Regions from separate parts of the Homo sapiens genome. Here region 1 is linked to region 2. The links come from fine-mapping of genetic effects on gene expression. Tissue or cell type: whole blood. Region 2 holds a variant in brackets; the other region holds the start of a gene. All regions are shown on one strand. Distances are between the middles of the regions.

Region 1 (9,583 bases), 40 kb before region 2:
CTTGTAGGCTGTGTTACAAGTTTATTAGCCTCTCTAAGCCTCTGGTTTCTTATGTAGAAAATGGAATGCTAATACCTATACCCTAGGGCGGCTTCACATTGACCAATGTGGAGCTCTCAGCACAGAGCATGGCTTCAGGAATGGTGGCCCACCACATGGACACGTGTATTCACCTCCCGGAGCACCTTGTACTCTGAGGGTGTTCCTAGGAATGGCACTAATAGAGTTAGGCATCTGACAGGTGGCACAGGCATGTTTGAAAGGCTCGGAGGTAAGAAGTCAATGCATTTTGTCTTTTACAAGGGGCTTTTACCTGTGTCATCTCATGATTCCACACGACACTCTACAGGGTGGGCAGGACAGGTATCATCATGCCCATTTTTCAGAGGAGAAAACTTAGGCTCAGAAAGGTTGAGTGACTGGCCCAGTGAGGTGGTTCATACAGCTAGACTGTGTCCCTGAGACTTAAACCTGGGTTTGCTTGTTTTGCTACAACTCCTCTTTCCACAACAACACACTGGGATGCTCAAGAGGAATGGAGCTTTGCTTTGGGACTTGGTGACAATGAGACCTGCATACATAAGGAATAGGGTGGCTGTCCCAGGCAGGAACACTTTACAAACAGGTGTACAGTGAGGGAGCATCATGTTGGGCTCCAGGAGAAAGAATTAGACATGTATCACTGAGCAGGGGAGTTCATGTAAGAGTAGTAGAAAATGGCTGGGTGTGATGGCTTCTGCCTGTAATCCCAGCACTTTGGGAGGCTGAGGCAGGTGGATCACCTGAGGTCAGGAGTTCGAGACAAGCCTGAGCAACATGGTGAAACCCTGTCTCTACTAAAAATACAAAAATTAGCCGGGCATGGTGGTGGGCACCTGTAATCTCAGCTAATCGGGAGGCTGAGGCAGGAGAATCTCTTGAACCTGGGAGGCGGAGCTTGCAGTGAGCCAAGATCACGCCACTGCACTCCAGCGTGGGCGACAGAGCGAGACACTGTCTCAAAAAAAAAAAAAAGTAATATAAAATAATGGAATTAAGATTGAACATATTCTGAAAGGTCTCAACACCCAAACTAAGGAATTGGGGCTCTATTAGGCCATGAGGAGCCACTGAAGCTCCCTTCCCAGAGGAAGGACATGGCACAATCCACAGGGCAACAGATAGTTGAGGACAACATGGTGGCTTCCAAAACTTGACTCACCAGGAATGGCTGAAGAAACTGAACGTTTGACCTAGAAAAGTGAAAACTTTTGGGAGGGAAAGAGTATTTGCCAGACTTGGGGGAGAACACAATCATTGTTGGACCAAGGAAAAGACAGCTTTGTTTTATGTGGTCTCTGTGAGTGTCTAGGGGAGCAGTGAAGGTCAGTGGGTGAAAGCTCTAGGGAAATAAATGTTCAGTTCAAATAAGGAAGACTTTTCTGGTCCTTTTAGTGCACTTTAACCCAAGTTTTTTTATTCATTTATGTGTTTGTTTTTTGTAAAGATGAGGTCTTACTATGGTGCCCAGGCTAGTCTCGAATTCCTGGCCTCAAATGATGCTCTCACCTCAGCCTCCCAAAGTGTTGGGATGACAGGGGTGAGCCCCTGCACCTGGCCAAACCTGAGTTTTGTGAGAGCCCACCTGCAAAACACTGGGAGGGAACAGTGACTGGTACAGACAAAATCCCTGCCCTCCTGGAGCTCATATGAAATGGGGGGAAGATAGGCCTTAAACAGAACCATCCTAGAAATTAATGTTATAGCCAGAGCTTCTCAAGTACAAGTATTGGCTGCTTTGAGAAGTGTAAAATCCATCCAGGCACAGTGGCTTACATCTGTAATCCCAGCACTTTGGGAGGCCAAGGCGGGTGGATCACCTGAGGTCAGGAGTTTGAGACCAGCCTGGCCAACATGGTGAAACCCCATCTCTACTAAAAATACAAAAATTAGCCAGGCGTGGTGGCAGGTGCATATAATCTCAGCTAGATGGGAGGCTGAGGCAGAAGAATCGCTTGAACCCAGGAGGCGAAGGTTGCAGTGAGCTGAGACTGTGCCATTGCACTCCAGCCTGGTCAAGAAGAGTGAAACTCCCATCTCAAAAAAAAAAAAAAATCCCCCATCTTAGGAGTTGTCAAGAGACATGTGTCGTGCTGGAAAGGGCTGGATGATTTCTCAGAAGATTCTCTGTCTCTACACATGTTGTGAAATCTTCAGCAACCCTAAATCCCTTAATTAGAGGGAGAGAAAAGGCAAGTGATCAATTGGCTTCTTTTAAAAGCCCATATCTGCATGCTTCGTCTTCACTGCGGTCTGAGGCGCAGAGTGTGGCCAAGCAGGAATTTCATCCTGTGTGTAGCTGGGTGGCTCCACCTATGAATTGAAAATCATTTAGCTGAAATTGTGACACAGCTGCAAATTACAGTCTGCCTGCAGGCTGGGGCTGTGGCTGCGGCCATGGTGCAATCCTCCAGTACCCAACATTAAGTAACTCAGGGCAGACTCTTACTGGGGCCCTACTGCTGGTCAGTTGCAAAGACTACAGGCAGCTTGGCTGGAGGAGCTGTGGAGGGTAGAAGGGAAGCTGGCTGTGTAACACTAGCCTGTCTACAGAGGAGCATCATACCCGCAATGTCACCATGGCTTTCAGCCTCATGACAGCCCTGGAAGGTGTGTGCATCATGCTGATGAGGATACCGAGGGCCAAAGAAGTAAAAGAATTCAGCCAACATCACACAGTGGACAAGTTCCAAAGCCTGGCTTTGAATCCAGGTCTTTTGACTCCAACTCAGGGGTCTTTTTACTACATTACTCTGGGATCAAGACCAGCTACAGACCCTCCTAGAGAAGACCAGGTGGTCAGTGGTCGGACACCACTGTCCAAACCCGTGGGACCCCTTGCAAAACCTGTGGCACTCGGGGCCTTTCAGGCTAATAATATGATTTTTTTTTTTTTTTTGAGACAAGGTCTCACTCTGCCACCCAGGCTGGAGTGCAGTGGTGCGATTTCGGCTCACTGCAACCTCCACCTCCCGGATTCAAGTGATTCTCGTGCCTCAGACTCCCGAGTAGCTAGGATTATAGGCACGCACCATCATGCCTGGCTAATTTTTGTATTTTTAGTACAGACAGGGTTTTACCATGTTCCCCAGGCTGGTCTCAAACTCCTGACCTCAAGGTCCCACCTCGGCCTCCCAAAGTGCTGGGATTACAGAAGCGAGCCACCGCACCCGGCCAGGCTAATAATATAATATTATTAATACTAACTTTTTACACTGGGCTGTGCCCAGCGCCGTGCTGAACCTTTTACACTTGCTGTCTCCTTTGATTCTCAGAGCAATTCCACTCAGTTTTACAGTTGAGGAAACAAAGCCTACGAGAGGTGAGGAGACTTGGCAGAGCCAAGACTGTGTGTCTTCAGGTTCCCTTTTAAGGGGAGCACCACCTCCCTGTCACCTCTGCAGCTTTCCTTGTCAGGTCATTGAAAGGAGTGCCCGGGGTCTGATTTTCCTTGGCTCCCAGGCCAACAGCAACAACCACAATAATAAGCAAAACCCCTCCTTTCCTTTAGACCACACACAGAAGCATACAGAGCACTTTCACACCCATTCATCCCATGCCATTCATGGAGCTGTCCTCCAGCTTTCTGGCAGGATGAACTTGGCGTCATGAGGCCTCGCCCAGAGTCACAGCTAGTGCCCGTGGTAGGAGCCAAGACCACACATGAGTCTCCTCTTGGGTCCAGGCTCTTTCCATGTCCCTCTCTACCCTCTGCTCTTTTCTTAGTCATCTGCCAGAGCCAACAGTGCATCCCATTCTGCCTGGCATGGGTGCACAGCCAGCTGTCTTAGAGCCCCAGAGGCCTGGGAAAGGCTGCCTCATTTAGGCGCTGACCTCCAAGGTTAAGCAAACACAGGCTCTGGAGCCATTTACATATGGGTATGAATCTCGTGGTTGGAGACTCAGGTTAATCTCTCTGTCCCCCATAAGATGGAAATAATAATAGCCCCTTTGCATAGGGTTGCTATGAAGATGAGAAAAGCTAATATATGTAAAGTGTTTAGCCAGTGCCTGCCCACAGTAAACACTAAATCAATTAGTTATTATTAGTAAGCACTAAATCGGTAGTTATGATTCCCATCTTTACAGTGATATTGATTCACTTATTCAAGAATGTGCATGTTCCAGCCACGTGTCAAGCCCTGTGCTAGATTCTGAGAAGAAGATTTGAATGATATGCAACCTGTACCTTCAAGGAGCTCAGTCTGGAGATGGGGACATATATAAACAGATAGTTCCAGTGCAGTGGATACATACGGTAATAGAGGTTCTAAGATGTACAAAAGGCTGTAGGGGCCTAAAGGACGGAGAAAGGACACTGATTTCTCTTTTTCAATTTTCCAAGCCACCTGCCTATTCCGTCTTCTCTTTCTCGAGATCAAACATTCTCACTTCTCTCTAAAGACCCAACCTTGTCATCATGGTGCTCAATCTTCCTTCCACACTGTGATGCTGGGGAAAGCCTTGGGGCATTTCTGTTCTCTCGTGAATCCTTGAAGCCTCACTTTAAAAAATATATACTCACTCCTTTGTCCATCGTAAACCTTGATATTTGTAAATATCGATAATAGGAACTTTGAAAAAACATACGCCCTTAGAAACAAGCAAGCAAACAAAAACACGTAGAATGTCAGAGCTTCTCCCCACTCCACACCCTTTCTTTAAACTGATGTCAAGGTGGGCCCAGTGAGGGTCAGTGACGGAACCTGCAGTCTGAGAAAGACATGGCAGAAGCATAAGGTTAGAGGCTGTTCCTGCTGCCTCATTAAAAACAACAATTTTCCCCCAAATCTGGACTGAAACTGACATTCAACGCCAAGTGTGATCTCAGTTTAACCTGCCCTGGTAGATATGCATACACTTCCCATGCGCACCATCTCATGTGATCGTGTCCACAGCTTTGTGAGTTGAGAGGGGTGGGAGTGATTATCCCCAACCACAAGCAAGGCTTCCGGGCTTCAAGGGTTGGAGACCACCCAGGGCTCGGCCAGCATCAGAACCAACGGCTTCTAATTCCAAATCAAATGATGGTTTATGCCACACTACAACCCTAAACAAATGAACTGTGATGTGTCTCACTTCCCTGTGCAAGTGGAAGATGCTAATACATGTGTATCATGAGAAAGGACCTCACAATTTTCTTCTTCTGGGTTCTGCTGAGACGTTTCTTTGATTCAGAGAGAACTTCCCAGGATCAGCAAGAAAAGCATGTCATCATTTCCTAAACCCTACAATCCAGGAAATAGTCCATCATTTTATAAAATTATAAAAGCGAACTATTTGAGTTTCTTTATTATCTGCCCCCTTCTCCCCAAGCTGGTCTTGTACAAACATGATGCACGTCCATTGGGTGACAAGTCTGTCGTAAGTGAAACGTTTACAGGCACTACAGGAATGACCTGGTGCCTCGCCCACTTCATTAGAATTCTAATTGGGGTGTGTAGGAGAGGATTCTATAAATGGTAAGGCAATCCTTGGCAGCCTGTCTGTCAGCACTGTCCGTGCCATTCCCAGAGGAGCCTGAGAAGAGGCAGAGGAAGGCGAAACATGGCTGGTGAGTGCATGGCATCTTCTCCATCAGGTCCTTGCCAGAAGCCTGTGCTTCCCCTGGGCCAGCCTGCCAAGCCAGAGTGTCCGGCCAGGACAGCTGCCTGCCTTGGGGGCTCTGAAGGCCAGACTTCCTATTTTAGGGTGCTAGCCAGAGGCGGCTCTTTCTCAGTGGTGGTTGGGTCCCTCTAGCATATTCTTGGGGTAGAACATCATTGGAATGTAGCTCTGAATAATGGGCAGGGTGTTCAGTGCAGCTGGACATCGCATCTCCTTAGGCAGAGGACAAGCTTTGCCTTGTTTGTGTTTGCGTTTCTTTTACACATCCGTCGCCACCCGTAAAGCCAAAGCAGACAGGACTCGGGTCTCGTGTTTCTCAGTGTAGCTGTATCCAGCTGTCAGCAGTGTCAGCAAAGAAGCACATCTCAGAACTACCAGGGAGTGAGAGTGGTAACATGTAAGTTGATTTGAAAGAAACCATTGTTTATTTCAAATCAACTTACTTAGGAGCATTAGGAATGCTCCTAAGTAAGCTACACATCAGAAGCATCAGACAGGCTCTGTGTAAGTGACTTGATGAGCTGAAGCCTCCCCGTAGCAGGAGCAGGTGTGCCACAAGATGTCCTGGTCCACAGGAGAGCACCAGGGAACAGGGGTTACAAAGAACAACAGGAAGTGCAGGTTCCCCCACTCTATGCTTACTGTCGAGGATATGGGCCTTTGTTAATCAGCACCCCTGCTAAGCAGCATGCTAATTATTATCTGTCTTGTGTGCTCAGCCTAGTAGGTTGACAGGGACGCCAAATCCAAACAAGATATGAGTCAAACTTGTAAAATATTGTGAATGGCGATTAGGGCTGCTGGAAGATTGGCCAAAGACATCACTGAGCCAAATGCAACAGGCAAATGCTGGCTACTTCAGAAGCCACAAAAACTGGGACAGGTGATTGCACATTAGGCCCCCTCCCCTGTCTCCCATTCCTTGCTGTAATGTACAGCATGGCTGGGATGCTAAGAAGAGGAGCTCTGGACCCTACACACTGCAGCAAGAGGGGAGGTCAGATGTCATCTAGCCCATCTCCCTCCCTCCAGGAGGTGGCTGAGGCCCAGGAAGGGGTGGAACCTTACACACAGTGAATCCATCGCAGAGCCAGCTAGGTCTCAGCAGTGCCCTTTCCACCATGTCCTGCTGCCAGAGCTGAGCTCCTACATAAGTGCACATAACATCTGGAACATAAAAAAGCAATTCTGAACCTGGCTTCTCATTTGAGCTTTGTGACCAACTGCTTGTGTGTTCTCTGCCACCCCTGAGCCTCAAGTTTTCAAGATGAAAGCTTTGAAATGAATGCGTTTTGAGGTTCCTTCCAGTACCGACTTTTCTTTCTCCACAAAAAGAAACCAGAGCCAGGGAGTGGACAGGCACGTGCCCAGCCCCCAGGAATGTGCACCTCCCATCCCTGTGCAGGACCTCCCGTGGACTCTCAGGAATGGCCTGCCCGCTGTGAGGCATGATTAAATGTCTCTGTTAACAACCAGAGATGTTCTAAAGTCACAACAGAATGAGGCTGGTGGGGAGAAAATCAATTTTGAAAAGGTGGTGGAGAGACAGGCGAATACATTCAGTCCCTTAAATTTGTCCCACTTGCAGTTCCCAGCTCAGCTCCGAGTCACTCAGCCAGGAAGTTCCCAATCAGTGTTTCTTGGATGAATGAATTTATTCACTGAACACCTAAGGGAGAAGAGCTGTGCCAGGTGCAGTGGGAAATATGGAGGTGAATGAGATGTGGTTCTGTCCTCGGTAGCTTTTAGTCTGATATTTTTTGGTACCACCGGTTTTTTAGGTGAGCAGCATGCAAGGCAGACTGTTATTAAGCTGCATGACAAATACAAAACAAGTGCTACGGGGACCAACAAGAGAAGGAGATTAGTCTTGTCTGGAATTTGGGATAGGGAAGACTCTGAAAAATGGTCACAGACAATGAGTTGGACTTGGTCTGGAGAGGTTTTGCAGGGCAGAGGGAACAGGAAAATAAATGTCAGTGTGAGCAGGTGTGACCCAGGGGACTATCGGGATGACAGGTGTGCTGCTTTGAGAGGACTCTGTGTCCAGCTCCTAATTTAAGGTTCTTGTTGCAATCAGAAGGGGTTCCATTATTCCACCCCTTGGTGGAGAAGGCAGCCTGGGCTGTGGCTGGAAATGAAGGTAGTGGAGGAAGGCCTGGCAGTGATCCGCACCAAGTGGCCTGGCATCCCCAGAGTGGGTGGGAGAGCAGTTTGTGAGCACAGAGGAGGGCCCCAGTGTGGAGGGGAGGCAAGATTCCCCATCCCCAAAGCCACTTGGAAGCCCTGGGTTAGTGGCAGAGTTCTCAGGGTACACACCTGAACCACAGGCTTCTGCCTGCAAATGACCAGAACCTCTGTTTTGGGGACTAATGGCTCTGTCCCTCTGGGGCAGTGAGCTTTCTTGCCAACTACTTTTCCAGGCAGAGCACTGGCCTTGGCTTCAGGGACTTCCCATCTCAAGGCCTCATTTCCTCCACCCCCAAAGGACCTGTACCATTCCCAGCGTCTGGGTCTACCACCAAACCGTTCTCCTTGGAGCTGGGACACCAGTCGCCCCTCCTCCCATGGAAGCGGTCAGGAATTGCTCTTGGGTTCTGGCCTCCTTCTCTTCTGTAAATCTTCTAGGTGCTTCCTGGACCCTCCTCATATTTTTGTGTCTGGCACTGGGACCAAGGCAATATCTACTCTCTCTCTCTCTGAAAAGGAGATGGCCCCTCTGGGCTCAGAGTCTTGTGACTCCAGCTGCTCATTGTTTGAAATGAGGACCAGCTGCCTCCTGTCTGCCCGGCTCCATGGCCTTCTTCCACCTGGGACAGCGGCTACTCCCTGTTCCTTAGAGACAGCCCATGAGCAGCTTCATTCCACCGGGAATGACAGCTGCCCGTATTTCAGCGTTTGTTCCTGTAGGATTCCTTACAGGATAGCTGATGGGTTAAGAGTGCAGGTTCAGAGGTGCTCTCTGGATCAAGGCTCCACTCTGCCCCTTACGAGAAGAGTGGTCTTGGGCAGGTCACTTAACTTGTGTGTCTCAGTTTCCTCATCTCCAAAATGGGGTTATTGCAGTATCCACCTCATGGGTGCTTACGATTACCTGGAAATTTTTTCATGAGCCTGTTTTCTCCTTGTCTTGGGGGGACTTAAGAAAAACCCTATGAGAGGAATTACATTTTCTAATCAGGGGCGATTCCCAGGGGACCCTCTCCATTAAGCGCCTCAGCACAAGTCCTCCCCACTCCCGCTTCATCCATTCCCAAGTCCAAAGTCCTCATGCCTGAGCACTCCCCTTGTTCACCTCAAGTAACTTCATGCGGCTCCACCCCGCAGGGCTGTCTCTGCAGATGGAGCAATCATTCTCCTCCCCAGGGCCCACGTGCCAGGCTGGGGTGTGTGCTGAAGTTAGGAAATCTCGCTTAGCAGTGGAGGGCACAAGGCCCTAGGATCTTGGTAGGAGCTGAGAGATGGGAGTCAGAAGGAGTCAGCCTTCCCCTCCCTCAGCCTGATTTTCCTTATTTGTAAAAAGAGGACAGCGACTCCTCCCCTGCCTCCTTCCTATAGCTGCCGGGTGGCTCTGGTCAGGTAATTTATGTGAAGGAGCTTTTATAAGTGTAGATGATAAACGGGCCTAAGGTAGTGAGGTCTCAGTCCCTGCTGCACATTAGAATCACCAGGAAAGCTTTAAAGAAAATGCTGGCCGGGTGCAATGGCTCACGCCTGTAATCCCAGCACATTGGGAGGTCAAGGCGGGTAGATTATCTGAGGTCAGGAGTTCGAGACCAGCCTGGCCAATACGACAAAATCTCATCTACTAAAAATACAAAAATTAGTGGGACATGCTGGCACGCACTTGTAGTCCCAGCTACTTGGGAGGCTGAGGTTACAGTGAGGCAAGAGAACTGCTTGAACCCAGGAGGCAGGGGTTGCAGTGAGCTGAGAT
Region 2 (8,000 bases):
TTAAGTCAGTTCTAAATCATCACCTTGCTTTTTGGCTTATGAATGTATTCTAATCTTTTTCAGCTCAGTTCTTATGATTTATTTTGAAATTATCTGTTTTTTAAGTCTCACAAAAGACATTTTATCAGAAAAAAATGGAATCTAACCTAATTAACGCAAGCAAATGATCAAGCCACATAGTAATTGTGTGCAGGTGTGATAAAGCTTTTCTACAGATTTTGGGAAATTTAGAGCTGATTAGAAAAGCGCCAGAGACCAACTGGTCTGTGAGTCTCCGGTTAAGACAGGCGAGCTGGAGACCTGTGAAAGTCGAATGCCTGCTAGGGCAGCAATGGAGCCAGCACCAGTCCTAGGCCGCCTGTCCAGGCAGGGTACTGTCCTTTGCCCAGGTTGCCATCACATCCCTGGCATGTTTCTGTCTTTTCCCACCACACAGGCTCTGACCAGGAAAGACAAGTGTTCCAAAAGGCTTTGGGGAAACTTAAACCCAACACGCCATTTGCCGCGACGTCTTCAATGGGTTTGGAAACAGAGGAACAGGAGCCCAGCATCATCGGGAAGCTGAAGGTCGCTGGCATGCTGGCAGTAGGCAAAGAAGTCAACCTGGTCCTACTGCTCAAAAACCTGAGCAGGGATACGAAGACAGTGACAGTGAACATGACAGCCTGGACCATCATCTACAACGGCACGCTTGTACATGAAGTGTGGAAGGACTCTGCCACAATGTCCCTGGACCCTGAGGAAGGTAACGCATCCCGCAGTTGGAGGAGATCCACGAATCCGAGGTAGCCAATGGCCTTCTGGGGCTGCAGGGTGTCTGCTGGGCTCCAGGTTAGTCAGCTACGAATGGAGCAGCCAGCGGCCCCTGTGGTTAAGCCATGTATTAATGCTTTGGAAGTTTCTGTCTCTATGAACAGAGTGATGCCAACCAAATGTCAGGGTGGTGCCAACCAAAATCCTTTTACGCCCCAAGGGAGGAAGGAGGGAGGCTTTGGCAGTTCATAGCTATGGCACAATATCCCTTACAAGTATATACCACCTCACACAGTTTGACCGTCTAAAAAAAGGCAGATTTTCAGTGTCCATCTTATAGAAGCAGAAAGTGAGGCTGGGAGAGATTTGTGACTTGCTTCGGAGATAAAGTATCATAGATAGTAGTGGTAGTGCTGAGTCTTGGTCCTAGGTTTCCTGATACTGAGTCCAGAGCCACCCCCTGTTTTCTATGTTGTATTGTTCTTACCCACCTCACCCCCACTCCCACAACAAATCGCTTTTCAAATTTGACCTCAGGAGGGTGGCAATGACCACGGGACCCTAAACCTTGGCCCATGGCCCTCCCACAGCTGCCACGGGGTGGGTGGACCTTCTGGAATCCTGACAACAGTGACAGGTTTTCTTAGAAGTCTGAGCGTTTGGGAGGAACAGTGACTCCTTGCCCTTGGGTAGCAGGGATGGGAAGGGAACAAGGTGGAGCAGATAAAGGTTGTGCTGTGGAAGGATTAGAATGCAGGTGTGCCCACATTGGTAAAATCCTTCAAGCTGTCATGAAAAGTTTGGACTTACAAGCCGGATTAACAGGGCAGGGTGGTTATTTGCTTCACATAAGGAACTAATAGAAACTGATTAATTATACTGCCCATCTTGAAAGAATTCTGTCTCCAGAGAAACTGAGAGGTGTCACACCTGTCAGAAAGAAGCATCCCCTAGCAATCTGTCTTCTGGCAGAATTTTAGCAGAAATCTTTTCAATATATGAAGCAACTGCCTGGCTGTTATTGACCTTAGAAACTCAAAGAAAGGGCTTTTTTTGTTTGTTTGTTTGTTTTTGTTTATTTGTTTTGTTTTTAGACAGGATCTTGCTCTGTCTGCCAGGCTGAAGTGATCATAGCTCACTGCAGCCTCAAACTCTGGGCTCAAGCAATCCTCCTGCCTCAGCCCCCCAAGTAGCTGTAGTCCCAAGTAACTAGGACTACAGGCATGCCATTATGCCCAGCTAACTTTTAAAGTTTTTTGTAGAGATAGGGTCTCACTATGTTGCCCAGGCTAGTCTCAAACTCCTGGCCTCAAGCAATTTTCCCGCCTTGGCTTCCCAAAGTGCTGGGATTACAGGCATAAGCCACCATGCCTGGCCAAAAGAGCTAATTTTGGAAATCAAAAAAAATTCACAGGATGGAAATAGTTAAAAAAAAACCGTTTTGCAGAATGGAATGGAAAAGAGAGAGAAGGCAGGTGTAGTGGTCTTAGAGTCTGGTCGTCTGCCAAGTAGTTGCTAGATGACCCTGGTTAAGTCTCCCTCCCTTTCTGAACCTCGGAGGTCACTGACGGTGAGGGTTGGACCAGCTGATGCAAGGGCCTGTCCTCTCCACATTTGGGGCAGGGATGGCAAATTCCTTCAGTGCTAAAAGCAGAGGCAGCTTCCTCCTCACAGTCTTACCTACAAGAGTATGTAATACTGTGGGTGCTGGGGCATCCCCAGGCCACCCAGCATGACAGCCTGAGGGAAGGGAGCACCTAAGCCCATCAGGGTAGGGAAAGGGCCCCGCGGCCCACAGGGTCAGAAGAGAGGACTTAAAGCGTGGGGAAGGAGCCGGATGCATGGAGAGAAGCCAGGGGAGGCATTTCCATCTGGGGGAACCATGTGAGTCAAAATATGGGGGCGAAAAGGTGCCTGTTTTGTCTGCAGAACAAGAAGTGTGGAAGGTTCTTTTAAGGGACAGGTGATGCAGGGCCAGGTTGAGGGGTCTGAACTTTATCTAAGGCAATGAGGAGCCACGGAAGATTTTTGAAGTCACATGTGACACAGAAGAAGAGTGATTTAGAAAACAAAACAGAACAAAACGAAAAACAGCTTTCCAAAGCTTTGTCTGGCTGGTGTGTGGATGATTTAGAAGAACTAGAGACCAGACCAGAGGAATGAAGGGGATGCTGTGGCAGTAGAACCCCAGGCTATTAGATGACGGGGAGGATCCTAAGCGTTTGTTTAGCCAATACCCTGGCTTCCCTTCCTACCTATTATTGTGTTACTGTCATGATTGCTACTGTTGTTGGCAATCAGGTGGCATTTGTATTCTTCCACTGCCCCTCAGAAGGACACTTGTGGCTGGGAGCAGTGCTCACGCCTGTAATCCCAACACTTTGGGAGGCCAAGGCGGGAGGATCCCTTGAGTCCAGGAGTTTGAGACCAGCCTGGACAACATAGAGAGACCCCATCTCTACAAATAATTTAAAAAATTTTAAAAAAAAAGGACACTTGCCCTCCAACATTTTTCGGAGTCGGGAGGAAGCAGCGGTATCTTTAGCCCCTGTGAGCCCATCCTCCTGGGAATCTGCCCAGCCAGAGAGAGTCCTGGGGCCTCTTTGCCCCCTGCTCTGGAGCCCACCCTGACCGGGGGACGCTTCCCACAGGACCTGGCCCAAGGAGGGCTCAGTCAAGCCCGGGGCTGCAGATCCTCCCACCAGCTCACCCTGCCTTGGCTTGGCATCTGTTCTGAGGAAGGTTCAGAAGCCATCCCCACTCCCCCTCACTCGGATCCCCTGGCTTCTCCTTCCAGAGGCAGAACATCCCATAAAGATCTCGTACGCTCAGTATGAGAAGTACCTGAAGTCAGACAACATGATCCGGATCACAGCGGTGTGCAAGGTCCCAGATGAGTCTGAGGTGGTGGTGGAGCGGGACATCATCCTGGACAACCCCACCTTGACCCTGGAGGTAATGGGG[C/T]TCCCCATCCTGTGGGAAGGGGTTCTGCCCCCAGCCAGCCCAGCTCCCAGGAGCCCCACTGTCCCTGTGAGCCACAGCTCTCCCAGAGGGCAAAGGAGAGTTTTTTCTTGCTGGGAGGGGCAGAGAACTGGGCCCAGCTTCGGTCCAGCCTCTGCCAAATAGCCAAGAGCTCCCACTCAGGCCCGTGTTCCTGCTCCCTGTCTGGTGAGATAAACGCGTGCATTTGCCTGGCTGCTTCTCAGATTCTAGTTCAGAACCACTGGGGGCATCAGCTGAGGAGGGGCCTGGGGGACTCTTTTCAGCTCATTCCCTTCTCACTCAGCTACTGAGCATTTGCTGTGTTCTGGGCCATGCCAGGCTTGAGATCTGCTGTGTTCTGGGCCATGCCAGGCTTGAGAATCACAGACAGGCACAGGTGTAGGTCTCACACACAGCCAGCTGATGTGCCAGGGCCACAGCCCAGCCCTCTGTCATGGACAGATCAGAAATAGGCCTGACCCACAGCATCTCTCCCCTGTCTAGACCCTGGAGTTACAGAATTGTGGACTCTTAGGAGCCTAGTCACATGCTCCTGTACTCTCATTTCACACAAGTAAACCAAGGCCCAGAGAGAAGGGAACAGCTGGCCACCGCCAGAGTCAAGGCTAGGCCTCAGAACCTGGGACTCCCAGCCCATGCCCCTCCAAGGCGTCCTGGTACATCACCAGCCAGCAACAGCATCTTCAAAGTGGCTGAGAACAAAGACCCCTCTTTCTCTGCTCATAGGGCTTCCTTTACTTTGCAGCATTCACTCCCAGGCTCCTTCTCAGGAGCCCAGGAAGGTGGGGCTTGCAGGTCTGTGGGAGGCCCCTCGTGCCACTCTGTGTCTTCCTCAGCACTGGTAGGAGCACCTGTGCGGACTCCAAGCCTGTCCCTCACCCTGTAGCCCCTGTGCCTGATCCCCACAGCCCAGGGTGAAGGGTGCTGGAACCAGGGAGTATAGGTCTGAAGGGTAAAAGGCTGGACAAGGACAGGCAGACAAACGGACAGAGAACATGAGGTTTTCCCTTGGGGCCCAATCAAGAGCCTCATGGGCCAGGCCCTGCCCTCTCTCATCTGCTGTACCCACCGTCTGCCCCAGTTGTCTAGATAGAAATTGCCTTTCCCTGTACAATCACAATGCCACAGGTTTCCCAAGCCCCAGAAACCAGGAAGAGCCAGATAATCATGGCTGCCCTGGCCCGCCCCTCCTTAAGCTGTAAGCTGGCTGCAGGCGTTCCTGACCTCAGAAAGGGCAGGGGGATCTAGGATGCTGGCTCTGATGCCGGGCCTGGTTCTCCCACATAGCTGGCCTGCAATTGCACCCTTTTACTGTCCTGGTTAGTTTGGACTGTGCTTCAGGATGGGGGAGTTGGTCCCCTACCTTAGGGGCTAGAGAGTCAGTGACTGGGCAGCCAGTCTGGGGGCTGAGAAGGGCAGTCGTTCAGGCCTTGGGCCATGTAACCAAATGGATCTGGCATTGTATCTAAACCCCTCCATTGATCAGTGGTGACACTGAGCAGGTCCCTTAATCTGAGTCTCAGTTGCTCCAACTCTGTCACTGGGACAATAAATTACTTCCCTTGCAGAGTGTCATTTCCTCAGGGAAGCCTTTCCTGAGCTCCCAAATTAGGCTCCCAAATTCATCTCAATTATACACCCTCAGAACATTCTGTCCTTTTCCTTCAAGGCATTTGTCCCAGCTGGAATATTATCCTTCTTTGTGCAATTATTTGGTTGTGAATCCCTACCCAACCGTAAACTCCATGAGGGCAGGCATTACCTCTGTTCTGAGTTCATCACTGTCTCCCTTAGCACAATGTCTTAGTGGATAGCCACTATTTGTAAAAGAGAAATAGCCCCTTGCTCGGGGCATGACTGGAACAGATCCCCTTGGCTCTGGACTTGCATTCTTCCCTGCACAGGAAAGTCAGTCCAGGCTTGTGCCCTGCGTGTGACAGCCTCTCCTGCTTCACAAGACATTTCTGAGAAACACTCCCCATCTCTCTAGACATGGTGGACAGCAGAGTGCCCATTCCAACTCCTGAGGCTAGAAAATGATACTGGGTGGCTGCCAGTTCAGTTATGAGAACATTCTGTACTAAAGTGATCAGTGTTTAAAAGAACTTAGTTTTTGGCCAGGCGCGGTGGCTCACTCTTGCAATCCCAGCACTTTGGGAAGCCGAGGCAGGTGGAGCACCTGAGGTCAGGAGTTCAAGACCAGCCTGGCCAACATGGTGAAACCCCGTCTCTACTAAAAATAGAAAAAATTAGCCAGGCATGGTGGCGGGCACCTATAATCCCAGCTACTTGGGAGGCTGAGGCAGGAGAATTGCTTGAACCCGAGAGGCAGCGGTTGCAGTGAGCCGAGATCACACCACTGCACTCCAGCCTGGCTGACAGAGTGAGACTCCGTCAAAAAAAAAAAAAATTAGTGTTTTTCCCCAGTGTATTCCCCATTATGTTCCCTTATCCAATGTCCTCAAACCTTCTTCCAGCATTATCTTTTATTCAACACTTTTGCTATACATCTTCCAGATTTCCATGGCAAGTCTACTTATCTTTAAGATACTACAATATCTTTAGAAAGGAAATCAGAATATATAAGGCTAGAAATGTGCCATCACTGACTCTTTTTAAAAATTTAATCTTTTTAAATGACTCCTGATCTTCCTTCTTCGAGGCAAGTTCTTTCCTCCACCTAAGCCTTCACCTAATCGAGACATTCTTGTCTCTATTGAACGGATCAATGCCTAGCTCACTCAGAGCAGGGCACCGATTTTTAAACTGGAGAAGGTGATCTGTATGAAAAGATAATAATTTGGGTAAAACCCCATTATCTAACCTGGTACTGACTGGCAATTAGCACTGAGGACCTTAGACCACAAAACCAGGCCAAAAACAATCTGAACATTGTTTCCAAAGGGTGATGTCCTCCCAATTGATCCATCATCTGTGACAAGCAAACTCAGGTTTTTAGTGGCTTTTATCCTTTCCTCTGGGTACATTTACAGAGTTGGGTCAATAGGAGAGAGTGGTAAGCGGCATTAAAAAAAGAAAAAAAAGCATGGAAATCTCAAATTAAATATCACCATGAAAAATGTGGCAACATCTGTATAGCTTTCTTATAACCCAATAGCATAAAATTATGCTGCACTCTTCAAATTATGTCATACACTTAAATGAGTTTCATGGAAGAAATGAAAATATAGACCATGATGTGTAAAATGCTTCAATTACTCACAAATTACTGGGAGGTATTGCAGACCTATCAGAAACAGCAAAGGCTTTAGATCCAGCTGGGCTCTGCTGTTTCCTTGTGTGTGAATGTTCCAGGTTATTGAATCAGCCTGAACCTCAGCTCTGTCACTGTAAAATGGTTGCTCTGAGGATTAGTGACAAGAAAAACAAAACACAGCAACAACAAAACCCAGCAACCTCCGGTCATCCTCAAAAGAAGAAGAAATCCAATAGCCATAAAATGTCCATTTCTATGTCCAAAATGCTTTCTTCCCCATCCTTGATCTCATTTGACCCCTTCTGGGAGGGAAGAGATGATTGTCCTTCTTTACCAGATGAGGAAGTTGAGGCGCAAAGAGATGACTTGTCTGCCCAGAATGAATTACGGCTGTTTCTTGGCAGAAACACAACAGCTTTCATCTTTTGGTCTGAATAAATAGTCCAAATTGCTTTTCTGACCCCAAACCCAGCCTTCATCTGTTCTGATCACTGAGCAAGGACCGTGTGGTATTAGAGCTCCGCTCAGACTATAAATGGTGCACAGGGAACCTCTGGGCTCTAGAAGTTTAGAAGGACATTGGTAGACTGGGGTGTCAGCAGAGGAGAGTAGCCTGGGTTGAGCTGGGGGGACCCAACCCCTGGAAAAAGAGTTAAGGGAGCTACAGTGTGAGCCAGGGTGTGAGCAGCTGTGGGGCCTGGGGCTGCCCTTTTCAACACCTGTGGGGCCTCCCAGAGACGGAGGTTCAAGCTTTAAGGGAAGAAACAGGACCCATAAGCAGGAAAGCCAAGGAAAGTAATATTAAACCCAGCAAGTGGCTGGGCACAGTGACTTACATCTGTAATCCCAGTGCTTTGGGAGGCCAAGGCAGGAAGATCACTTGAGGCCAGGAGTTCGAGGCCAGCCTGGGCAACACAGCAAGACCCTGTCCTTGCAAAAAATAAATTCAGCATGAAAAATGTCCTGACCCTCACAGAGCCCACAGTGGGGTTGGGCTGTCCTGGGAAGCAGGGTCTGAACTGGAGTC

What was found. PIP is the estimated chance that this variant, and not a neighbour inherited with it, causes the effect.
Region 1: TGM3 starts here. The variant in region 2 is fine-mapped to the expression of TGM3 in whole blood (TOPMed, PIP above 0.99).

What each region holds. Positions count from the first base shown.
Region 1 is chr20:2,290,478-2,300,060 of GRCh38, forward strand. TGM3 (transglutaminase 3) reads left to right here and starts at 5,524. Exons shown (of 13, transcript NM_003245.4): 1 at 5,524-5,593. The coding sequence starts at 5,587. LOC105372503 (a long non-coding RNA gene) reads right to left here. Exons shown (of 3, transcript XR_937203.3): 2 at 6,715-6,813; 3 at 5,344-6,017. RefSeq lists enhancers at 6,228-6,761, 6,762-7,294.
Region 2 is chr20:2,331,566-2,339,565 of GRCh38, forward strand. It overlaps TGM3 (transglutaminase 3), which reads left to right. Exons shown (of 13, transcript NM_003245.4): 10 at 437-745; 11 at 3,551-3,708. Among named protein-coding and RNA genes, the nearest start is that of TGM3, 40 kb to the left of the region's middle. The variant C/T (reference allele first, on the strand shown) is at 3,718.